Linked DNA regions of Homo sapiens. The protein of the gene in region 2 interacts with the protein of the main gene of each other region in a pairwise test. Each region holds a gene or a part of one and is shown on either strand. Other genes may lie near its edges. The genes, in order: NOTCH2NLC, HCK, CYB5D2, CTAG1A, NOTCH2NLA, CCDC88B and BPIFA1.

The links.
Region 1: the proteins of HCK (region 2) and NOTCH2NLC interact in binary tests that used the Homo sapiens proteins (3 or more experiments, as listed by UniProt).
Region 3: the proteins of HCK (region 2) and CYB5D2 interact in binary tests that used the Homo sapiens proteins (3 or more experiments, as listed by UniProt).
Region 4: the proteins of HCK (region 2) and CTAG1A interact in binary tests that used the Homo sapiens proteins (3 or more experiments, as listed by UniProt).
Region 5: the proteins of HCK (region 2) and NOTCH2NLA interact in binary tests that used the Homo sapiens proteins (3 or more experiments, as listed by UniProt).
Region 6: the proteins of HCK (region 2) and CCDC88B interact in binary tests that used the Homo sapiens proteins (3 or more experiments, as listed by UniProt).
Region 7: the proteins of HCK (region 2) and BPIFA1 interact in binary tests that used the Homo sapiens proteins (3 or more experiments, as listed by UniProt).

What each region holds. Positions count from the first base shown.
Region 1 is NC_000001.11:149,453,121-149,456,620, reverse strand, and holds part of NOTCH2NLC (notch homolog 2 N-terminal-like protein C), read right to left. Parts: intron 1,304-3,500; coding exon 1,044-1,303; intron 1-1,043. UniProt on the Homo sapiens protein: Human-specific protein that promotes neural progenitor proliferation and evolutionary expansion of the brain neocortex by regulating the Notch signaling pathway.
Region 2 is NC_000020.11:32,055,242-32,058,741, forward strand, and holds part of HCK (tyrosine-protein kinase HCK), read left to right. Parts: intron 1-3,500. UniProt on the Homo sapiens protein: Non-receptor tyrosine-protein kinase found in hematopoietic cells that transmits signals from cell surface receptors and plays an important role in the regulation of innate immune responses, including neutrophil, monocyte, macrophage and mast cell functions, phagocytosis, cell survival and proliferation, cell adhesion and migration.
Region 3 is NC_000017.11:4,149,697-4,153,196, forward strand, and holds part of CYB5D2 (neuferricin isoform 1 precursor), read left to right. Parts: intron 1-194; coding exon 195-335; intron 336-3,500. UniProt on the Homo sapiens protein: Heme-binding protein which promotes neuronal but not astrocyte differentiation.
Region 4 is NC_000023.11:154,583,927-154,587,316, reverse strand, and holds CTAG1A (cancer/testis antigen 1), read right to left. Parts: upstream 2,185-3,390; 5' UTR 2,111-2,184; coding exon 1,842-2,110; intron 1,166-1,841; coding exon 1,031-1,165; intron 792-1,030; coding exon 653-791; 3' UTR 501-652; downstream 1-500.
Region 5 is NC_000001.11:146,219,022-146,222,521, forward strand, and holds part of NOTCH2NLA (notch homolog 2 N-terminal-like protein A), read right to left. Parts: intron 1-3,500.
Region 6 is NC_000011.10:64,353,704-64,357,203, reverse strand, and holds part of CCDC88B (coiled-coil domain-containing protein 88B), read right to left. Parts: intron 3,490-3,500; coding exon 3,391-3,489; intron 3,201-3,390; coding exon 3,034-3,200; intron 2,011-3,033; coding exon 1,804-2,010; intron 1,645-1,803; coding exon 1,576-1,644; intron 166-1,575; coding exon 110-165; 3' UTR 1-109. UniProt on the Homo sapiens protein: Acts as a positive regulator of T-cell maturation and inflammatory function.
Region 7 is NC_000020.11:33,234,819-33,238,795, reverse strand, and holds the start of BPIFA1 (BPI fold-containing family A member 1 precursor), read right to left. Parts: upstream 2,801-3,977; 5' UTR 2,746-2,800; intron 1,100-2,745; 5' UTR 1,085-1,099; coding exon 925-1,084; intron 742-924; coding exon 582-741; intron 1-581.

The DNA.
Region 1 (3,500 bases), on a different chromosome or scaffold from region 2:
GGGACAGGGAGTTTCTAGCGTGGGTATTTGGGATGTACATGGTTGCTACGTATTTCTGTCAACAAGGTGAGCTGAAAGTACCTGTAGAATATCTCCAAGGAGAACATACAAAGGATAGCTAGAAACATGAGCCTGAATGTCAGGGTTGGGTGGAGCTAAGGGAATGATGGTGAGATTCATCAGCAAGCTAATGAAGACAGTGGCAGTGGAGGCGAATACAGACAGTGAAATTCCCTAGGGAGAGCTGTGATGTGGCTCAAAAGAGGGCGAAAAACAGTGCTCCAGGGAGCACAAACATTTAATGGATAAGAACAAGGTAATGAAGAAGCAAAAGGAACAGGGTTCAGAAAACCAGAAAAGCCAGTGCCCTGAATGTCTAGGGAGGGAGATTTCTAAAAGCAAATAGTCAATAACATCAGCAACTTTTCCTCTGGTGACAGTGTACTTATTTCTTTTAGTGAAGTAAACTCTGATTCCCCATCCTGGTGTACATATTTTTTTTTTTGAGACAGGGTCTCACTCTGTCACCCAGGCTAGAGTGCAGTGGTGCGATCATAGCTCACTGCAGCCTCAAACTCCTGGGCTCAAGCAATTCTTCCACTTCAGCCTCCCAAGTAGTTAGGACTACAGGTGCACACCACCACACATGACTAATTTTGTTTTATTTTTATTCTTGTTTTTTTGTAGAGATGGGGTCTTGCTATGTTTCCCAGGCTGGTCTCAAACCTCTAGCCTCAAGTGATCCTCCTGCCTTGGCCTGCCAAAATGCTGGGATTGCAAGCGTACGCCACCGCACCTGGCCCTGACATATATACTTTAAGCAGTCAAAGTATTTGGTCCTTTTTCTTTCTCTTTCTCTGCCCCCTGAAACTCTTAAAAGGAAGTTAGGGATAGTTGTCTGGAACATCCCAGTTCCTTATCATAATGTTAAATGTGCACCAGAGCTGGGGGACATTTAAGAGCCAGATACCATGATCTAAAAGATGCTAAATAAAGGTATCTGCTGAAGGTAGGAAAGCACTGGCTTTGGTCTCATTAGTTACCTGTAAACCCGACTTGACAGGTGCACTCATAGGTATCCCGGCTGAGCATATGGCATGTGCCGCCATTCAGGCAAGGTCGAGACACAAAGCATGGATGAGATGTCGAGTACTGGCAGTCCTCTCCTGTAAACCCTGAGGCACATCGGCACGTGGCTTTCCCCAGCATGGCCTGGGCCACACAAGTCCCACCATTCTGGCAGCGGTTCTTCTCACAGGGGTCTCGATGTTGACAATATTCCCCCAAGAAGCCTTCTGGACATCTGTATGGAAAAGAGAAGAGTCCATGAAAACACCTGACTTCTTGTAAGTCCAAAAAATTACAGTAAAACAATACAGTCCAATCAAGAAAGCACGAGATTGTGAATCAACAGACCTACAAGGACCACCTATAAAACTGCTTCCCTTTAGAAGAAAGAGTCCTTAGAGAACTTAACCACATACTCCCATGTCCTTTTGAGTCCTGGCAGGTGACAGAGTATCAGCTGTATGGTCTAGCAGGGTCTGCCATGGCCAGTCAACATGACCCTTATTCAAACGCAAAATGCACCCCAGCTTTTTTTCATGTGTGTACAGGTTGGGATGGTGTAACAGCACCTTTTTTAGAGCACTGTTCGTACTTGTCTGCTTAAATTCATTAACTTTCTCATTTTGACTAAGCCATTTGATAGGATTAAGATGTCCACAATATAATGCATGAACTTGACCCTATTATCCCCTCCAATTTAAAATATGTAAGGTATCATGTGCTTTTCCTCAATTAAGCATTGAGAAATAGTAAGTGCTTCTTTCTCTTATTTCCACTGAAACATCAATTGGCTGATACCTAGTTTTCTGGGTTATGTTCAGGTGGCTGACATTACAACAGAAAAAGGGAAAGGAGGTACAGGAATGGGGAAGAGTTCAAAGGGATATTTAAAAATCTGTTAATATTTAAGTAGGCATTTTTAACCAAATAAAAAGGCACAAAATATAATTAAATAACATAAAATATCTAAGATACCATATAAACACCAAAGTGAAGGAAGGAATCAATTGAAGAATAACATTCTATGATATTTTCCACATTGAGGCACTGAGGAACCTTTTTACATGCCACCCCTTGATTCATAAGATGTACAACCATTTCAAACTGTGTGTATTATTTATGACAATTTTCTCTGAACAATATCAAAAAGGCATGGTAAGTCTCCATTTTCATAATGAAGTTGTTTAAATGGAATCTCTGAGAAGCATTTAAATTAAGAAACACAAACACTTTGATTCTAACTATAAATGCTGCTATATATTTGGCTGGTGCCCCAAATATGTGATTCAACTTATTCCTCGTTTTAGTTTTCAGGGACTAGAAAACTGAATCTAGTAGGCTGTTCCACCATTACCTCAAAGATTACACATTTAAACCAAACTCTAAATCCCCCTCTCAAAAACCAGCTTTTCTGTGCCCAAGCCTTGTTGTCCTGATTTTCCTAATCATTGTGACCTGAAACATTGGGGTCATGAGTGCTTTTGTCTTTGACAGTCATATCCAAGACCTTTCATTAACCATTGGTTGGCAAGGCTAGCTAGCAGGGGTCACAGTTACTGAGAAAAGAAGGAAGGCCAGATACTAGGGAACTAAGACAGAAAATGCCCAGAAGAATTGTGTAGTAGCTAAAATGGCTAAAGGAGAAAACAGGGTGGTGAATAGCTATAGTGGTAGTGAGGTAACTGGCCACAGCCTCTTCACCCCTCCCAGAGCTGCATAAGATAAGCATGGCAGAGCAAGGAGCGGCTAAGGCTCTGGGCATCTTCATGAGTAGGTGTAGCTACAGACCAACAGGCAGTGAAGAAAGTTCATAGCACTGAAACCAAAGATGGCATGCAGGTGACTGTGAGGAGTCTGTATCAAGAAGGTCAGAAGGTCTGGTTTGGAGTTCTGGTGCTGTGACCTTGGACAAGTTACTTATCTTCACTGACTATCCATTTTCTCACATTGTAAATAGTTAATAAGGTCACCTACATCATGAGATTATTCTAAGAACTGAACAAAATCAAGTATGTAAAAAACCTTATAAATGTTAAAAAGTTTTGCAAGTGGGCTGGGCACAGTGGCTCACACCTGTAATTCCAGCACTTTGGGAGGCTGAGGTGTGAGGACCATCTGAGGTCAGGAGTTTGAGAATAGCCCGGCCAACATGGTGAAACCCTGGCTCTACTAAAAATACAAAAATTAGCCAGGGTGGTGGTGCACGCTTGTAATCCCAGCTACTCGGGAGGCTGAGGCATGAGAATTGCTTGAACCCGGGAGGCGGAGGTTGCAGTGAGCCGACGAGATTGTGCCACTACACTCCAGCCTGGGCAACAGAGTGAGATTCCATCTCAAAAAAAAAAGTTTTGCCAAGTGAAAACATCTTTTCTCTCTTCTTTGTGCTTATTGAGGAAAATACAATGCCCCATCCAAATCACAGCTTGATTTGA
Region 2 (3,500 bases):
GAATGTTGCTCTGCTGATCTCCCAGCCGTCTCTGGATCAATGGCCTTTCTTTCAGGCCTCATGTTCTCTGCTGTAAGGCACTTCACTTGCCTTACTCACTATGCCTGGCACTTAATAAGTGTTCAAGAAAATGGAAGCATGAACCTTTTGAGGGAACAATAACCAATATTTTCATGTATCTTTATGTAGTCTTTTCTATGCACTTTTAAATTAACATAATTAGTATAATGCTACACATAGATTATTTTTATCCTATTTATTTGCTTAGTATTACATTGTAGCATTTTCCAGGTCATTAAAATGTTCTTAAATTTTTAGTGGCTGCATAATATTCCACTGTTTGCCTGTATTATAATTTGCTTAACCTTTCTAGCAGAGCAATCTTTTATATAGTTCAAAATTTTTAGAAATATTTTAATCGAGGTGAAATTCACATAACTTTATAAAATTAACTATATGATTTTTAAAGCGAACAATTCAGTGGTATTTGGTATATTCACAATGTTGTACAAACACTACCTGTCAGTAGCTCCTAAACATTTCCATCACCCCTGAAAAAGGAAACTTTGTACCCATTAAGCAATTACCCCCCATTCCCCCGGCCCCTGGCAACCACCAATCTGCTTTTTGCCTCTACGGACTAATTTATTCAGGATATTTAACATAAATAGAAGCATACTATGTGACTTTCTGTGTCTAGCTTCTTCCACTTAACATAATGTTTTCCAAGGTTCATCCACATGGTGGCAACTATTAGTACTTTATTCCCTTTGTGGCCAAATAATATTCCATTGTATGGATATTCCACAGTTTATTTACCCATTTATCCACAGATGGAAATTCAGGTTGTTTCCACATTTTGACCATTGAAAATAATACTGCTATGAGCATGCATGTGCATACATGTATTTGTTTGAGCACCTGTTTTCAATTCCTTTGGGTATATACCTGAAGTAGAGTTACTGGGTCATATAAAAGTTCTATCTCTGTGGCCGGGTGCGGTGGCTCACGCCTGTAATCCCAGCACTCTGGGAGGCTGAGGCGGGCGGATCACGAGGTCAGGAGATGGAGATCATCCCGGTTAACACGGTGAAACCTCGTCTCTACTAAAAAAATACAAAAAAATTAGCCGGGCATTGTGGTGGGCGCCTGTAGTCCCAGCTACTCGGGAGGCTGAGGCAGGAGAATGGCATGAACCCGGGAGGCGGAGCTTGCAGTGAGCCGAGATCGAGCCACTGCACTCTAGCCTGGGCGACAGAGCGAGACTCCTTCTCAGAAAAAAAAAAAACAGTAGTTCTATCTTTAACTTTTTGAGGAACTGCTATGCTGTTTTCCACCATTTTACATTCCCACCGTAATATACAAGGGTTTCAATTGGCTTCACATCCTTGCCAATGCCTACTATGTTTATATTTTATTAGTATTATTATTACCATTCTAATGGGTACAGAAAGCACGAATCTTAATCTCATTCAAACCAGGCTGCCCTCTGAGGGCTCTTACCTCAGAAAGTAAGGAGAAAGTTGTCTACATTCTAAGGACTAGCCAGGGCTTGGACTTTAAACTCTTCTAGAAAGTAAATTCTACAAGAGCACAAACATGTTTGTCCTATAAACCACTGTATCTTCTAACACCTGGCACCTGGCACATAGTAGGGCCTCAAAAAAACACTGATGGGACAAACGCAATGAATGTTGGACAACCTCCTCCCTCCCTTGCCTGAGATATTTCAGCTGCCCTCCCCGAACACCCCTCCACCCGCAGCGATTATTTTTAATTAGTTGCTAACATTTAAACTCAGGAGAGCTCACATAATCTGGATTTCTGTCTCCTAAAACATTAGAAGAGTTAGCAGCCCTGAGACTAGAACCCACGACTCCAGTGCTCTTCAGACAACCTCAGTGGAGCTGGGGGCTGCCCTGGGGGCTACACCTGGGCTGTCCAGCTTGCACAGCCCTTGCCAGGCCCACTTTCCTCATCCGCAGAACCCTCCACATCCCTATAGTCATTTGAGTTTTCAAACCCCACCCTTCGGGTCATGACAAGGCTTCCTTTTTTATAGAAAAGGAACATGAAGGGCTGGGTGCGGTGGCTCACCCTGTAATCCCAGCACTTTGGGAGGCCGAGACAGGCAGATCATCTGAGCTCAGGAGTTCGAGACCAGCCTGGGTAACATGGCAAAACCCTGTCTCTACAAAAAGTACAAAAATTAGCTGGGTGTGGTGGCACATGGCTGTAGTACCAGCTACTCAGGAGGCTGAGGTGGGAGGATCGTCTGAGCACAGAAGGTGAAGGTTGCAGTGATCTGAGACTGCACCACTGTACTCCAGCCTGGGTGACAGAGCAAGACCCTGTCTCATAAAAAGAAAAGAAAAGGAATGTGAAGCCTAGAGAGGGTAATTGACTTTCCCAAAGTCACACAGCAAGTTAGTAGCACAATCTCTCTCAGCCTCTTTCTTTCTTACATCTTTTTGTTGTTGTTTATTTTTCTTTTTTTATACCACAAGTCATCAAGCAATCACTTCTGCCTTTCTAAACAAACCCCACCACATGCACCAACCACATGTTGGTCCCCACCCCATTTCTCCAGTTTCCTCCCCCACAGGACTGGGAGTTTGAAGGTACTTTCAGAGGCGTGGGTAATGATGCAGAAGCAGCCTGTGCTTAAGTGTAAATGTGCCCTGGTCTTGGCCCCGGCTGTGGTCCCACATGCTGCATCCTCTGGATGGCACTGCGCTAGGACGTGCGCTCCTGACTCTCCCTTCGAGTCACCTCCCTGAGTTCCAGGCATCACCCTGAAATCCTTTGGCCCAGGAGATGTAAGTGCAGCCAAGAGAACAGGAATCCCAGCCTCATCTCTACCATAGAAATGAAGAACAGTGGGTACAGTACAGTAGACGACCCCGAGTCTGAGTGCCAGCTCTGCCAAAGACAGGTTGTGATGCACTAGGCAAATCTCTTCCCTTTCTGAGCCTCAGTTCCCAAATCCAAAAAAAAAATGGAACTGAGGCTGGGCACGGTGGCTCACACCTGTAATCCCAGCACTTTGGGAGGACAAAGCAGGTGGATCACCTGAGGTCAGGAGTTCAAGACCAGCCTGGCCAACATGGTGAAACCCCGTCTCTACTAAAAATGCAAAAATTAGCCGGGCGTGGTGGCGGGCGCCTGTAATTTCAGCTACTTGGGAAGCCGAGGCAGGAGAATTGCTGGAACCCGGGAGGCACGGTTGCAGTGAGCCAAGGTCTTGCCACTGCACTCCAGCCTGGGCTGACAACAGCAAGACTCTGTCAAAAAAAAAAAAAAGGGGGAGAACTGAGGAGGATACTACTCATGATTCCTGCAGCACAATTCCTTTTATGTCAAAACACACACACACACACACACACACACACACACACATACACACACTAGTCCATCATGGCGTATATGTCTTAGTTTGAGTTTCTCCAGAAGCAGACCCTAGGCAAGGTTTCAAATGCAAATAGTTTGAGAGCTGATTC
Region 3 (3,500 bases), on a different chromosome or scaffold from region 2:
GCTGAAGCAGGAGAATGGCTTGAAAGCGGAAGGCAGAGGTTGCAGTGAGCTGAAATCATGCCACTGCACTCCAGCCTGGGCAACAGAGTGCGACTCCGTCTCAAAAAAAAAAGAAAAAGAAAGAAAACAGATTCTTGAGTGGGGATGGTGTCAGTGGTTTACACCTGGGTCTGATGGAAACATCTCTGTTCCAGGCCGAGACGCATCCAGAGCTTTCGTGACCGGGGACTGTTCTGAAGCAGGCCTCGTGGATGACGTATCCGACCTGTCAGCCGCTGAGATGCTGACACTTCACAATTGGCTTTCATTCTATGAGAAGAATTATGTGTGTGTTGGTAAGTCGTCCATAGGTCATACATTTCATTTGGTTGTCTGCAGTGTTTTTAGGGGGCTGAGATTTTTTAGGGATTGGGTTCAAGCTTAAAATCTGAAAAACAGCCATGGATTTGTTTTACTTTAAATTCTGGTCGTTAGAATAGGGATGAGCCGCCCAGAAGGAGATGGATGGGCACCTGCTTCCCCCACTCTTAGTCTTGGGAGAGGATTACTAAGCTGCTTGCTTTGGCCTCAGTTTCGCCATAGCCAGTGGTTGCTTGCACCATCCTTGAACAACCAGCTCCAGAAGGGCAGCTTCCCTGTCTCACTGTGTTCGATGCATCTGGCTTCAGCACACAGCCAGAAGGGCTTGAAGCCTGAATTTGTGTTTCGACAAATCCCCTTTTATTTGGTCCTCTAGGAGGAGACAAACTTCGTGAGTGAGCTGTCTCCCAGGTGGTAGTTATGCTAATCAAACCACTGTGTAGGTTACTGCACTTGCTACTTACTGATGCTACATAAGGGACTTGCTTCTCAAATGAGACAACACCAAACTGTGTCCTAAAGCAGTGTTAAAGACTCTAAACACTAGGCCCGGCGCAGTGGCTCACGACTGTAATACCAGCACTTTGGGAGGCTGAGGCGGTTGGATCACTTGAGGTCAGGAGTTCAAGACCAGCCTGGCCAACATGGTGAAACCCTGTCTCTACTAAAAAATACAAAAATTACCTGGGCGTGGTGGCACGCACCTGTACTCCCAGCTACTCAGGAGGCTGAGGCAGGAGAATCGCTTCAGCCCGGGAGATGGAGGTTGCAGTGACCTGAGATTGCGCTACTGCACTCCAGCCTCAACGAAAGACACTAAACACTAGATTGCTTCACAAGTACTGACAACTGGGATGGCCGTAGCCCTTTCTTCTATCTATCTGCAGCCCCCACGTCTCACTGGAGTCCTACTTGGACATGACTGACTTCCTGAGGAACACCAGTATCACTTCACCATCGAAACAGGTCTAACTTGGAAGAATTCTTTCCTTAATGCCTCTGAATTTCTGCTTCTGTCATCACTGCTTGAGTTACCTTTTCTGAGAACCTTGGCATTTTTATTAACACCTCAGCTCCCTCCACATCCAATCAATCATGGCTTTTTCATAATATCTAAAGTTTGTGTCCATCCATTGTGGGCCTCTGCAGCACGCCTTTCTTCATTTTCTCTCGTATGCCCAAGATCAGTCTTGAGACCATAACCCTGTCTACCATCGAAGGCACTGACCTCTACTCACCTGCGCTTCAGAGGGCTGGGTTCTTCCCTTTCCCAATGAAGTTGCCAAACCAAGGTTGAAACATTACTGGGTTAATAAAGAAAAGAAAACCCAATAGAAAAGAATAAGAGCCAGGAGTGGTCTCTCACACCTGTAATCCTAACACTTTGGGAGGCCGAGGTGGGCGGATCACCACCTGAGGTCAGGAGTTCAAGACCAGCCTGGCCAACATGGTGAAACCCTGTCTCTATTAAAATACAAAAATTAGCCGGGCATGATGGCAGGTGCCTGTAATCCCAGCTACTCAGGAGGCTGAGACGGGAGAATTGCTTAAACCTGGAAGACGGAGGTTGCAGTGAGCCAAGATCGCACCACTACACTCCAGCCTGGGTGGCTGAGTGAGACTCTGTCTCAAAAAAAAAGAAAAAAAAGAAAAAGAATAAGAATGGAGTCCAGACCGGTGGCTCATGCCTGTAATCCCAGCACTTTGGGAGGCTGAGGTGGTCGGATCAGTTGAGGTCAGGAGTTCAAGACCAGCCTGACCAACATGGCAAAACCATGTCTCTACTATAAATACAAAAAATTAGCTGGGTGTGGTGGGACACACCTGTAATCCCAGCTACTCAGGAGGCTGAAGCATGAGAATCACTTGAACCTGGAAGGCAGAGGTTGCGATAAGCCGAGATCACATCACTGCATTCCAGCCTGGGCAACGGAGTGAGACCCTGTCTCAAAAAAAAAAAAAAAAGAACAGAGTCCTGTAAATGGGCAAAGAATGCCAGGCCAAATACTTCATACTAAGATTTGGGAGCACACTGGAAGTGTTCGGATGCGTTTGGTGTGACAAGTGAGCTGGTCTTGTTTGAATGATGTATAATGTGTTGAGGATGGGGTGGGGCATGTGGCGGGAAATGCCTCAGAAGGATTTTAGTTGATGTCAGGATCTTATTGAATACCTACTACTCATAAGTTACGGGTTCCATCCTCAGGGGGACCAGGGATGAATTGAGTCCAGTTCCTGCCCCTGTTAGCTCATTCTGTAGGATAGGGGCCATGTTAGGCTCTTTCAGGTTACCAGAAACCCTCAGGATACATCAGTGGATGAAGGTTTATTGTAAGGGTACATACTGAAGTGAGGACAGCCAGGAAGCCATCTTGGCAGCCAACATGGCCAGGCCTCAAGGGAAAACAAGATGGCCTTGGTTATGCTGTGGATACAGGATTGGCTTGGAGATGCAGCCACTGGTGATCACCATTCTCATGACACAGATTCTAGAACTCTTCCTCTGTTGCCTCTGCTACTACTGTCCTCTCTTTGGGTCTCATGTCAGAAACTCACCAAAGACAGGCTTGTCACCATATAACACAGACACCCCAACCCCCGTAGTGGGAAATTCTGTGCCAGGCCAACTCATAGACTGCAGGCCTGTGACTCGGGCCCTGATTCCTTTCTTTATTCATCTAATAAGTATTTAAAATGAATGCTCTATGCTAAGCTGTTTTATTTATTTATATATTTTTTCAGATGGAGTCTTGCTTTGTCACCCAGGCTGGAGTGCAGTGGCACGACTGCAGCTCACTGCAACCTCCAACTTCTAGGTTCAAGCAGTTCTCCTGCCTCAGCCTCCTGGGTAGCTGGGATTACAGGCATGCACCACCACGCCCAGCAAATTTTTGTATTTTTAGTAGAGACAGGGTTTCACCATGTTGGCCTGGCTGGTCTCGAACCCCTGACCTCAAGTGATCTGCCCGCCTCAGCCTCCCAAAGTGCTGGGATTACAGGTGTGAGCCGCTGCGCCTGGCGCTAAGCTGTTCTGAGTACTGCGCCTCACTAGTAGAGAGAGCCATCATAGACAAGTAAACAGATTGAACAACTCCACATAGGACCATGCATCAAACTGTGATGTAATACGTTTGGGAGCT
Region 4 (3,390 bases), on a different chromosome or scaffold from region 2:
ACATTGCCCAGGGTGGCCTCCAACTGCAGGTCTCAAGCCATCCTCCCGCTTCAAGCCTCCCACAGTGCTGGAAATACAGGTGTGGGCCACCATGCCCAACCCATATCACATGCTTAACAGTGATATGATAATGCTGGTTCTATGCATCTATTCAAGTACGTTTTCAAAGAATTTTTCCCAAGTAAAAAAGCTCATATGTTCAATGAAAACAATTTGGGAAAAAATTTAATGCTGACCTGGAAAAACATTATATATGCTACTGTCATATATTTAACATATAAATGCAAGTATATTGAGGAAAATATTCTAAAATGTCCACAGTAGTTAATGCTGAATGGCGGGACCCAGTGGCTTTTCATTTTCCCCCATTTCCCAAATTGCCTCCCGTTACCTTGTGCTACTTCAATCTGTGAATCCCAGAGCCTCCCCTGCAACCCGAGGACAAGGGCATGCAAGTCCGAAGGTGCCTTCGCTCGCCGAAAAGAGACTCAGACACGGAATCGTAGCTCAGTTTTATTTTCTACAGAAACAAACATGTAAGCCGTCCTCCTCCAGCGACAAACAATCAGGCCCCCACAATGAACTGGCCACTCGTGCTGGGACCATTCCCTAGGGGAGGAGGCATGACCTAGGAAGGGGCGCCAGGCTGGGCTTAGCGCCTCTGCCCTGAGGGAGGCTGAGCCAAAAACACGGGCAGAAAGCACTGCGTGATCCACATCAACAGGGAAAGCTGCTGGAGACAGGAGCTGATGGAGAGCTGCAGTTGGCGGTGGTCTGCAGCAGTCAGTCGGCTAAATGTGAGGGGCAGAGAACATCACGTTAAAGGCGACACCTCTGCACCCATCTCCCTGGGCTCCCTCGGGTGGCGGCGGGCCTGGTGTACCAGGTCTCTGTTCTGAGACCCTGTGCTGGGGTGTTCCCAGGTTTCTAGCAGCCTGACCGTGGGGTGTAGGCGGATCCCAGCCCCCACCCTGCCACGCTGTGACCGCCACCCACCCAGGCCCCATCCCTGTCCTGGTCCTGAACTGACATAGTCAGTATGTTGCCGGACACAGTGAACTCCTTCAGAAGCACCCCTGGCACGGGAAGCGGTGGGGCATCCTGGGCCAGGCTCCTGCGGGCCAGCTCTGCTTCCATGGGTGTCGCGAAAGGCATGGCGAGGTAGCTGGTGGGGGCCCAGTTAAGGCATCCTCTCCTAGGACTTGGCCTGTGGCTCCGGCCTGCTGCTTACCCCAGGCCAGCTTCCCCCTCCCCCACTCCCCCACCCCTCCCCCCTACCCCGGATTGCCCAGCCCATCCCCCCCAGGCTGTCTCCCCAGGCACTGGCCCAGTAGCACACCCCACCCAGCTGTCTTGGTTCCCCACTTTCCTTTGCTGCACCCCAAGCTGACTCCTCCATGCCCTTACAAGACCCCTCCCCACCCTGCCCCCTGTGGCATCACCCGGCCCCCTCCTCATCACTCGACCCTCCATCCCAACCACCTCCCGCCACCCGCTCCCATCTTGCCCCCTTCCCCCCACCTCCTGATCCCCTCCTACACCTGGGTCCCCCTATCTCCTGGCCCCTGCTCCCCTCCCCGCATGACCCGGTGCCCCTCACCCAATCACCCAGCCCCTCTCCCCCACCCCCACCCCCTCTACCTCCCAGCCCTTACCTCCTCCCCTCCTCGCAGCTGGCCTCTCATATCCCCACCTCCCAACCCCCACCCCCACCCCCACCCAACCACTTACTCGCATCTCCCCCGCCTCCTCCCCCACCTGGCCCTGCCCTCCCCATCTCCCGGCCCCCACCTCGCCACCAGAACTGTCAGAACAGAACAGAACAGAACAGAACAGAATACAACTCAAGCAGGCGGCTCTCCGGCCCCCTGGCCCCGCATCTGCAGCATCCATTCAGCCCTGAAGCCGCGCCGCCATGCGGACCCCGCGGGGCGCCTCCTCCCGGCCCCGAGGCCCTTGCTGCCCCTGCGCCCCGGGGACCTCTGCCGCCCGTGGCACCCGCCTCTCCTGGGCCGCCAGCATTGCCCCCTGGGCCATCAGGAATGCCAGGGCCTCCTGGGCCATCAGCATCGCCCGTCGAACCCCCTGTGCCCCGGCCTTCGGCCTGCATGGCTCCGGAGCCTCTGCCCGGCTCTCAGAGAGAAGGTCAGGGCCCACGAGGATGCGGAGGCAGAGAGGCTGCAGGAAGTTCCGCCCCCTGGCGTGAGATGGGCAGCCCGGGATCCTCAGGGCGCCTGCGCACAGGGGCCCTACTTCCGGCCCTGGGAGACCCCGAGTGAGCCCCGGAGCACGTGACCGGTTCTCACCAACCCCGCCCCTCCCCAAGAGAGCCCGGGCCGGAAGGTGGCCGCAATGCCAGCTTGGACCCCTCACCCCTGAGCAGCCGGCTGTCCGCCGGACCCCTGTCCCGGGAGCCCTGCAGGGAGTCAGGCACTGCGGGGCCCAGCCTGTCCCATCCCCCGGGTCTCCCTCACATCGAGGAGCAAGACGGGCCTGGGAACACGGGGCCGGGACTGTGCGGCCATCGTCCCGGACCCTGCCTGCCCTGTCCGTCCTTGGGGGAGCGCCCAGGACAGACCCCGGGGGGCAGGCCTCTAACTGGGCTCAGCAGCCTCCGTCCCTGTCCTGGTCGCCCAGCTGGTGGGGTAGCTGGAACTGCATGTCTGGTGGGCGTGGCCTCGCGCCAGCCAAGGTCTCCCAGGCGCCAGGTCCAGCCAAGGTGGACGGGAGGGCCCAGCGGGACCCGGGGCCGGATCTCACTCCTGGGTTCAACGGGTTCTGTCCCTGTCCTAGTCGCCCCGCCTGGTGGGGGAGCTGGAGCTGCGTGTGGGGTGGGTTGCGGGTGGCCTCCCACCAGCCAGGGGCTCCCGGGCTCTAGGCCTGGCCCAGGTGGACAGGCGGGACCTGCTGGACCTGAGGCTGGGTCGGGCCTGGCTCCTGGGTTCGGCAGTATCAGTCCCTGCCCTGGTCGCTCTTGCCTGGTAGGGAGCTGGGAGGTGACCCTGTGTCTGCTCAGTGGTGATCTATTTGTGTGTCTGGAAGGGGGTCAAATCCACGGGACAGGTACCTCTAGAGGCATGCAGGGGTGAGGGCGGCACGGCCCCGGGAGCTGAATGTCTGTGCCAGGCACACCTGTAGCAACAGGAGGTGACCAGACAGGGCCTAGCCCTGAGGAAGGGGGAGGTACTGAAATCCAAACCACTCTCCCCCACCTTCCAAATCCAGGAATCAGCAGCCTCTGCACCTGGGAAAAGCATATTGGCACTCATGTGGAAACTAAAAACGTTGATCTTTTGGAGGTAGAGCAGAATGATGGTTACCAGACGCTGGGAAAGGTGGGGAGGGTGGGGAGGTTAATGGGGACAAACATATAGTTGCATAGAAGGATTA
Region 5 (3,500 bases), on a different chromosome or scaffold from region 2:
CTGACCAAGCTAACTGGCTAGACCCACTGTACTGGCATTTATCCATTAGGTCAAAGTGTCAGAATTAGCAGTGCATGGTAGACATAGCATTAGTCCTGCCTTTCAGGGATGTTAAATGCTTCAAAAATCTTGGCTATCTAGAAAAGGAGGACAGTAGCCGATTACGTCACCCACCCAAAATCATGTATTTGACTCCAGAATACACTGCTTTTCTCCAACATATTTTTTTATTAAGTATTAAAGTAAATGTCAATTTCCTAGACATATACAGCTGAAAGCATGCTGATTTACGATACAGTCAGATAAGAACTTTCAAGTAGCTACAGAAAATAGCAGTTAACAAATGAATTAACCAATATCATTAGAAACCAAAGGATTAAAAAAAATTAACCTATGAAATGAACAATTTTTATATCAACATTGGTAGCAATTTGATGTTATGTTATATACTGCTAATTATTTCCATACATATTGTGACATATTTAAGACAAAAGACTAACACCCTTAATATTTAAAGAGCTTTTTCAAACCAGTAAGAAAATAATTAAATGAGTAAAAGACACAATTTACAAAAGAAGTAGGAAAAAAGGCAATACAAACGCCACTGATGATATGAAAAAACATTCAATATCACTGTAATGAGAGAGGCATATTAAGATTAAGTAATATTTACCACTTATCAAATGGTAAAGATTTTTAAAAATAAAACCTAGTGTTGACAATAGTATATTATGTGTGTGTGCATATATATATATGTAGATCTGTTCATAAACTAAAAAAAAAAAATATATATATATATATAAATAAATCAACAGCTTTTCTAAATCTAAGGGTAAAAAAACCAAAGACGTATACCAAAAAATTAATGGCAGCATGATTGTGGACATTTTATTTATGCTTTTCTAGATTCTTCAAACATCCTTAACTACTTTTTCAAACATAATTACTTTTTATATTACAAAAATAAAAAAATCTTGTAAAGGTGCCAGAGAAAATCAGCAAAGTATAAATATGAGTTAATTATCTGTAAACATAACGAATAATTCTGTTGCTACGTAAACCTACCTTAAACTGTTTCAATGTTTGCTTTTAGTTACAACTATTTTCCTTAACTCTCTTAGAAAGAATATGTCAGAGAAGCCACTACATATTACTTACTTTAAATAGTAACATAATGCCAAAGACTTGCATGAATCTCAGGATACGGTCTTTTACCTAAAATTCCTCATGAAGATTAGAATGCACTTTAAATGTTGTAATAAAGTAAATGCCCTTAATGTTTCTAACTAAAGAAGATCTAGCAAATAAATAAACCCATATTCACAGCAAATAAAAATATAATAAAATAATCGAAATACACATGTCCTCAAACTTCAATGTGTCTTGACAGCGTCTGAACCAAAGCATGTGTAAGGAGAGAATTAAACAAAAATGTCTTTGCTACTTACCACATTTACCATTTAGAGAAGTTAATATATCAGCACTATCTAGTTTTGTGATTATTCATACTTAGAAACTCAACAGAATAGATTAGTGAGTAAACAGTATTCAATTATTCTTATTTGAATGTTGGTTAGGTATACCAATAGAACAACCTCTCCCTGCTAGGTACCCGTTAAAATAGATTATTGAAAATATTTGAGGCTTAAAAACTTCCAGAATCTTCTCACACAAAAAAAGATGAAAATAAAAAGAGATGAAAAAGAAGCAAACAACAATTTTAAAACGTGCCTGCCTCAGAACAAGGCAGTTTATTTTAGAATGTAACCACAGCTTCTTGTACAACACCTTATTCATCAAGCACAACTGTATTTTAAAGGAATGCTATTTGTTAAAAAGACAACATATTTAGGATAAGGTATCTAACTCCAACCACAATATTATCATCATGTTTTCCTTACTTCACAAAATACACACATACATTCATCATATGAATAAACATATATAATAAAGGTGAGAGAGTTACTCTTAACCCAGAAACAGGTTCTGCAACACCCATAGATCCAACCTGTCGTTATGCAACAATGAGTCCATCTTGGCAAGATGTTTGGCTGATGTATTCAAATAACCCAGAGTTCTGCCAGCTGCCAGTATCCTGCAGAAGGAACTGACTCAGAGACCAGAAACTGCCCTAGGCAAGCCTCCAGGGAAAGGTGCTTCAGTCCAATGGGAAGAAAAACCCAGCCCCTCACTGCCTGGCCAGAGGACCCGGGGTACCATGGCTGGAGCGACGTAGCTGGCTGGAAATGCGAGAGGGGCAAGGGACACTAAGGTGAACCCCCAAGAGCTTGTTCAATCATACCTAGTAAAGGCCAAACTATTGGGGAGCTAGTAGAACAGGGTTTTGCCAAGACAAGTACAAAAGGGTGAGGGAGATATTAGTATGATTAATCAATGCCACCTGAGGCAGCAACTCTGGGTGTGTCCACACCACACTTCAGTCACTGCCTGGCTGTGACGAGAAGTTCCTTCAGCCACTGCCACTGAGAACTGCATCTTCCAAGGAAGATATTTCCACCATAACTTGTCCTAGTTCAGGCTTGGCATTCGGGACTAAGAACACAGCACTCTCTCTTGCCGCAAACCCACTAACAGACATAATAGACACCACAACATGTGCCAAATTTATATTTACACCCTCACCAGACAAAGGGGTTTTTGTCTTTTCCCCAAGCCAAGTTCTAATACTTCTAAATTACAACACAGAAAGAGGAAAATGGCAGACAGCTCACGACAGCAGACAAGCCCAGCAAGGGTGAGCTGGAGGTCGCCTTTCCCTGGTGGTATTAAGACCTGAAGTTTACTCCCAAGACCCTATAGCTCTGAGTCACCCTGACTGCAGGAAACTGCTTTCAGAGAGCATAGATAAATGATAAAATAACTGTATTTCATATTCCTAATTGTGTGCTTATCTGTCTTGTCTCCATGATGATGTCAGCTCCTTGGGAGCAGGACCATATTTTCTACTTGGTCAATGATTCCCACACATCTAGAAGAGTAGAATACCCTGTACTTGCTACCACATGATGCCAAGGGAAGCACACAAATTAAGTGTGACAACACACCACAATGCTCCCCCAATACACCACTAAGACAGCAGAGCTACAAAGATAGCAAATGTTAGTGCCAAGGGCTAGTGATCCTACCAGTGAATTACATGGAAACCTATGTATTTACATACACAAATTAATACAATAATTCCTTTGCTTTTCTTATTCCAAGCTATGGCTTTATCATCCCCCTTTCTTGGCTTTACTCTCCTTTTTAAGACCACAATGTATGTTCTGCCATACAGATAATATTCTCCTCAAAAAAGAGAGACAGGAGAAAAAACAGATCTACGGCAAACCTCCTACCACTACCAGTGATGCAGTTTGTCCCGTCTCAAGCCTATGAGCATATCCTTTCAGATCTGAAGCCACTTCCTTCTTCCTATCAAGGACAGTATTATCAAGTGTCTTTGTGAGAGGAGCAATCCTGTGCCCCTTCTTGCAGATTGT
Region 6 (3,500 bases), on a different chromosome or scaffold from region 2:
GGACTCCCCTTGGGGTCCCTGGCTCCCTGAGCTCTTGGGCTGCCTGGGGCCTCCGCTGACACTCCAGTGCCGAGAAGGCTGCACTCCCAAGCCTGCTGTTCCCACGGTGTCACTGGCTGAGGGATGGGGTGAGGGGACGTTTCTCCGGTTCCTGTACCTCAGGGCCTAGAGGGAAAGGCTCAGCTGAGATCTGCTTCCCTCAGGAGGACTCCCAGAGTCCCAGGAGGCCCACAGGCTCGAGCACCTTCTGCCCACCCCCGACCTGCCAATACCCCCCGCTTCCAGCTGCACCACGCCTGCTGTTCCCTCAGCGGTTCCCTCTGCCCAGAATGCTGTTCTCAGGTATGTCCACACGACAAACTCTCCCCTCCAAGTCTTTGCTCCAATTTCACATCCTCTCTGAGGCCCACCCCAGCACCCCAGTTACTAAAACTCCAACCAGCCTGCCCAGAGCTCCTGAGCTCCTGACCCCTCCCCTGCTCTCCTTTCTTCCCAGAGCATTAGCGCCTCCTGATGGTCCAGCCGGGTCTAGGGCTGAGCTGCCCAGGGCGGAGCTAAGTAGGTGAGATGGGGTTGGCCTGTGACGTGCTTCAAAGACCTACTATGTTTTTTTGTTTTTTGTTTTTTGTTTTTGAGACAGTCTCACTCTGTCACCAACGCTGGAGTGCAATGGCGTGATCTTGGCTCACTGCACCCTCTGCCTCCCAGGTTCAAGCGATTCTCCTGCCTCAGCCCCCTGAGTAGGTGGGATTACAGGCATGGGACACCATGCCTGGCTAATTTTTGTAGTTTTAGTAGAGACGGGATTTCACCATTTTGGCTAGGCTGGTCTCTAACTTCTGGCCTCAAGTGATCTGCCTGCCTTGGCCTCCGAAACTGCCAAAGACTTACTATGAAAAAAATCACGTCTGGCTGGGTGGCTCACACCTATAATCCCAGCACTTTGGGAGGCTGAAGCGGGCGGATCACCTGAGGTCAGGAGTTCGAGACCAGCCTGACCAACATGGTGAAACCCCGTCTCTACTAAAAAAAATAATAATAATTATACAAAATTAGCCTGGCGTGGTGGCCCATGCCTGTAATCCCAGCTACTTGGGAGGCTGAGCCAGGAGAATCGTTTGAACCTGGGAGGAGGAGGTTGCAGTGAGCCAAAGAGTGAAATTCCATCTCAAAAAAAAAAAAAAAACATCACGTCTAATAGCTCATTCATGATTTTTACACTGGCTACATGCTGAAATGGTAATAGCGTAGGCATATTGAGTTAAATGTTATTAAAATCCATTGTACCTGTCTCTTTTCACTTTTTCTGGTAAGCCTACTGGAAAAGTTAAAATTATCATGTGGTTCACACCATATTTCTAGTGGACAGGGCTGTTGTAGATAATAATTATTTTTAGGCAAATTGTTTACTATCTGCCTCCTCACACCAGAACGTTCCCTGCTGTGTCCCCTGCCAGCACGTCACCTGGCACTTGGTAAAGGATCATTGTCGAATGAAAGAATGGATGAATGAGGTTCTGCCAGGGGCCCCAGGCAGGACAAAGAATACTACTCCTTCCACAGTCCCCCACTCACCCTCTCGGTTGGCATCTGTTTCGTGTTCCTGCAGGGTCTCAGCGGAGTTCTCCCATCCCACACCAGGTCCTGGGAGGCACAAGGCAACCACTGGGCCCAGGGCCAGTGCGGAAGTGGACAGAGCTTGCAGGAGACACAGGGGACAAGAAGGAAGCCTCCTCCCCCAAGGAGCTGGTGGGTCCACAAAGAGTTGGGGGGCTGGCTGGTACAGTGACCCTTGTCCCTCACCTTTGCTGTGGGAGACGGGCGCCCCCAGGGGGCCTGGATGGCGCTGTCGGAATCGTTGCCTAGGGGTGTCCCCAGGGCTGAATGACTCAGAGCTTCGCCCCACCGGGAACCTTGAGCTGAGTTTCCGCCGCTGCCCGCCTGCCAAGGTCTCATCCCGCAGGCAGAGGGAGCTCTGGGCCCGGCGCATGGGTGCCGGGGAAGGGGACCCTGCAAGAGGTACATGCAGGGAGGGGGTGAGAGGAGGGGACGGGAGCTGAGGCTCCTGTAGGGAGGAGGTCAGAGAATGGGGGGAGGCTGAGGCTCACGCAGGGAGGGGGTCAGACAAGGGGAGGGGGTGCTGAGGCTCCTGCAGGAAGGAGGTCAGAGAAGGGAAGTGGGGGCTGAGGCTCATGCACGGAGAGGGCCAGAGGAGGGGAGAGGGAGCTGAGGCTCATGCAGGGAGGGGGTCAGACGAGGGGAGCGGGGGGGCTGAGGCTCCTGCAGGGAGGAGGTCAGAGAAGGGAAGTGGGGGCTGAGGCTCATGCAGGGAGGGGGTCAGAGGAGGGGAGGAGGCTGAGGCTCATGCAGGGAGAGGGTCAGAGGAGGGGGGGAGGCTGAGGCTTATGCAGGGAGGGGGTCAGAGGAAGGGAACGGGGACTGAGTCTCATGCAGGGAGGGGGTCAGAAGAGGGGGCTGAGGTTCATGCAGGGGAGGGGTCAGAGGGGGGGGGCGGAGGCTCATGCAGGGAGGGGGTCAGAGGAACAGGGCCCTGGATGGAGTAGAGGGGCCAGTGGGTGAAGCTGCCCAGGGCCAGGGAGGGGAGGTGCAGAGGTGGGGGAGAAGCCAGGCAAATGAGTGGGGCAGCAGGACACTGGCCCTGTGCTGGCCTTCATACTAACTCACTGCATGACCTTGGGCAAAAGCTTCCCCTCCCGGGGCCTCAGTCTCCTCATCTGCAGTCTAGGAACAATGACCTCTCCCTAGAGTCCACTGCACCTCCCAGATCCTGGGCTCCGCTGCGGATGGGGCAGGCTGGGTCGGGGACAGCACAGGCAGGAGGGAGGTGTGGGCCAAGGGTGACCCTGTAGGACCCAGGGAAAAGAGCCCCTGGTGGCATCAGGGCAGGGGGGGCAGGCCTCAGGGAAGGCCAATGGGGTCACGCATGCAGGCCAGGCAGTGAGGCAGGTGCCAAGGTGGGGGACAGAGGATGTGGGGCAGGGACCATCCTGGCCACCTGACCCCCAGACCCACCTGTCCCATCTGCCTCCCTGCCCTCAGGAAGCTCCGTCTCCGGGGGGCCCCCCAGGCTCTCGGTGCTGCCAGCCCCATCGGCCCCCAGGCGCAGCCCCCCAGGGGGGCCCCCCTCCCGCCGGGGCCGCATCAGCCTCTTCACCTTGTCTGCCAGCCAGCTGCCCTTCCTGGGGGCAAGAGGGCACAAGAGGGGGTCAGGACAGGGAGGAGGGAGGGAGCAAAGGGTGTCCTGGGGATGTCAAAGGCCAGGTTGACCTTCATGGGGCCTGGACCTGAGCTGGGCCTGGGGTCAGAGGCCAGGGCAGGGGCAGAGGTTAGCAGGATGTCCAGCCTGAGGGAGGTGACAGGGCTGCTCACTTGGTCCGGGGCAGGGGCACAGGCTCCAGCACGCGGTATTGGTCCATGATCTTCTCCACGAGCTTCTGCTTCTCGCGGCGCAGGGCATTAAGCTGGTCCCTGGCAGGAGT
Region 7 (3,977 bases), 1.2 Mb from region 2:
TTGCTTTTTGCTTTGCGAGCTCTTGGGTGTCTCATGGGAAACTCCACGTTAGACCTTTCCATGGACATCACACTGTTTTTCATCACATTGATATCATCAAGGTGGGCAGGTTATACTCTCGCTAACATCAAAGGCCGTCTGTGTTCTAAGGGATTTCACAGGTGCAGAGAACAAAATGACCACAGTGTAGTGGGAAGAGCCTTGGCTTTGGAGTTAGGATAGTAGAGTGAGAGCCTTACTCACTTGGCATCACTCTAGCAGCGTGAACACAGGCACCTCTGTGCTTTGGTTTTCCCATTTGCAAACTGGAGATTATTAAATCGACCTCAAAGGGTTGTGGTGAGGATTATAGATGATGCTGGGGCCTCAGGACATGCCTAGAACTGAGGGCATTGCTGGTTTGGGGAGGACGGGTGTCCCTGCCAAACTGGAGATGGGTCTCAGAACTGAGTCCTGGCTCCATCTTCAGGCCGCTCCCTCGCTGCTTCAGGGTCGCTGCTTCAGGGTCACTGCCTGGGGCTGGCAGATCTTCACCTGGGGTTCCCTGGTGGAGATCAAAGCTCTATTTTAGGACAACTCACTCAATGATGTTGTTCAGGCCAGGAATCACTGACGTCACTTTTCCAAGCAGTCCCCCAAGGAGGCCACCAGAAGTACCTCCTCCAGGCTTCAGGATGTCCAGGAGCGGAAGGTTTTCCAGAATGCCCAACAGGCCCCCAGACAGCAGGCCATTGCTGAGGGCTGGAAATGGGTGTAAGGGTCTCTGGGGGTCAGATCTGACAATTCCAGATCCTCAGGCCCCCTCCCCCATCCAGCCCTGTCCCTCCCCACTTTGCAGGGTTGGACACACACACACACACACACACACACACACACACACACACACACACACACACATGCACACATACACCCCTGAAAACTCACCATTTGTCAAGCTTCCTGCAAGACCTGTGGGACTCAAGGGCAGGGCTGGATTCACATTCAAGGGCAGGGTCTGGTCCAGGGGCACGGGCAGGCCTCCAAACTGGGCCATGGTCTGGGCTAACAGCCCGTAGAAGACAATGAGGCCCCCAGTTTGAAACATCTTTGCTCTTAGTATCTGTGGCCAGAATGACAAGTCCAACATGGCATGGGTATCAGAGAGGAATTTATCCACCACCTGCCCTGACACCTGGGGGGTGGGGTTGTTTGCTCCCCAGAACACCAGGGGGTCACTAGTAATAGCTAATACTGCTGAACAATTTCTCTTTGCCAGGCAACAGGCTGACCACTTTACACAATTTCATCTTCATCACAACCCTAAGACATGGGCACCTGTTACCTGCATTGCACAGGTGAGGACCACTGATCAGGGGCCTAAAAAGGAGACAGCCCCACTCCACCACATTCCAAAGAAGAGGGTTTTTTTCCTTCTTGCCAAGAATCCCAGCCTCACCTCACTCCATCTTGCCCACAGTTCACTTGTCTGATTTTCCAGTAGGAGAAACCAAGGCTCACAGAGGTCAAGTGAGTTTGCAGTTGGGAGTTTCAAATATACTCCCATCCCTTCTTGAAACCCACTTGTGTACTACCGAGTGTGGGTAACTTTCCCCAAGGTCACAAGTACACGGTGGACAGAGGATTAGAAGCTAGAGCCAGGTGAACCCTCGGTTAAATTAAGTAACCATCAGATTTATTCTCCAATCGGGCTTGCTTCAATGGTTTGAATCATTGCTGCTCTTCAGACAAAGCAAATGAGAAGGGTTAAACGTGCAAGTGCTGAAGAATTGAACTGTTTTAGATCATCCCTGTTCAGTCCTTTGGCCTGAGCTCAGGCCATGATGGTTGGTGGATGCCCTTGAAAGTCACACAATACAGGGGTCGCATGGCCACAGCCACCATCTCATGTAGACCTTTGTTGGGGAATTCCTGGGGCCATCAAAGTCTTCATTGCATGAGAAGAACCAGGAGACCAAAGAGGGGTAGTGACTTTCCCAAGGTCATACAATAAATTGATGGCAGAGCTGTGGTTGAAGGCAGGTCTCCCAACCCTCCCCTCACCCAACACACAAACATGCATTCTATCATTTTGACACCTTTCTCTTCTCCTTCAAGCTGCCCTGGATGGAATTCCGGTCAACCCCTGAGGTTTGGCTTGCAGACCTCTCACAGGTCTATTTGGCAGCCAGCAGAGTTGTCCAGAGCCAGCACTAGTACCTACAATTTGGAGACAACTGGTGACTTTGTGCAAAATTCCATCTATTGGCTGACTCAGCTAAAGCTCCATCCTTGTGGTGGAAGGCTGGAAATGAAAGGTCTTTGGTCCAAAGAGCCAGTTGTGCCCTTCTTAGGGAGGTAACTTTGACCACAGCCTCTGAATCTCTTTTGGGCAACAGACCCTTTATGAATCCAATGGAAGCTAAAGATCCTAGTCTCAGAAAAAATGCATCAAAATGTATAAAATTGGGTGAAGAATTTTAGGAGGTTTTTGGATCATCTGTATCCACATTGGTAACCTCAAGCTAAAACTTATGCCTTAGAGGCTTTCATTTACGGCATTAATAGTGCCCATTTCTATATCAATGTTACTGGTCTCTTAGGACAGCAGAGCAAATGGCCATCCCCACATCCCTGACATTGGCCAGGTCTGTTTCTCTTGCACAGCCCCCAGTGAGTGATCAAGATCACTCACTGCCCCACAGGGCAGGAGCCTGAGATCCCTGCCGTTAAGGGTAGCAGAGGGGCCACAGAATGGATGGCTCTTACCTGGACTTCTTAGAGGTCTCAGCAGCTGTCCTGGTCTCCTCTCTCTCCCCCACTCACTTCTGCCGAGGAGTCAGCCTCTTTTATAGTATGGGGACGAGGAAGCATGTGTTGGGTGATGGGTTTCTAGATAATTGAGAATTCTGCAATCTGACAGTGTCTTTCAGGGCTCTCCAAAGTAAATAATTGCCAATCACATTAGCAGGTGAGACAGTTAAGCTATTTGGTCAACAAGATAAACAGAGAAAAACCTGAGATGGGATGTTACTCAAGACTTTATGGTTTCCTGAGCGGAGCCAAGGTTGGGGACCCACGCTCCCAAGGTAGCTTGGAGCATTGAAAGGAGCAGCCAGACAGAGCCCAGGAAGGGACCTCAGTCTCATCTCTTGGCCCCTTTCCTCTCCTGCTCTAATTTTTTTGCTCCAGTTGGAGGATTCTTTCTCCTAAAATGTCAAAAGAGTCACACTGCATCCTACATCTGGGGTGCGTCTCCATTCCAGGGCAAGGGTCTCCTGTTTTCAGAGCCCCTATTGCACGTCAGGAGCTCTCTGTCCTCACAAGAACCCTGAGAGGGAGAGGTGACTCCTCCTCTTTTATAGAGGAGGAAACTGAGATCCAGTGGGGACAAGTGCTGAAAGACCCAGAGAGGATGCAGCAGAGTTAGAATGCAACTGACTGGAGAATGAAAACAACAAAAACAACGCCAACAGCAGACACTGGCCGAGCTCCTGCTGTATGCCTGGCCTGCCATGGTGTTCACAGGCAGCATCTCACAAAATCCTCACAACCCTGTACTCCTATTCTATAAGGGGGAAACTGAGGCTGAGTGTGAGGCAAGTTGTCCAGAGATGCAGTGCTTGCCTGGGGTGAGACATCCACATTCAGGTCCTTTCCCCGAATCACTGCACTGAGAGATGAAGGTGCCTCCCAACACTTGCTGGCCATTTTGATTTCCCCACCTGTGAACTTTACACTTTCATGCGTCCCTTTTTATTTTTTAAATTTTCACTTAATTTTTATTTTATTTTATTTTTTGAGACAGTCTTACTCTGTCGCCCAGGCTAGAGTGCAGTGGTGTGATCTCAGCTCATGACAACCTCCACCTCCCGGGTTCAAGTGATTCTCCTGCCTCAGCCTCCTGAGCAGCTGGGACTACAGGCGAGCGCCACCATGCCTGGCAAAGTTTTTGTATTTTTAGTAGAGATGGGGTTTCACCATGTTGGCCAGGCTGTCCT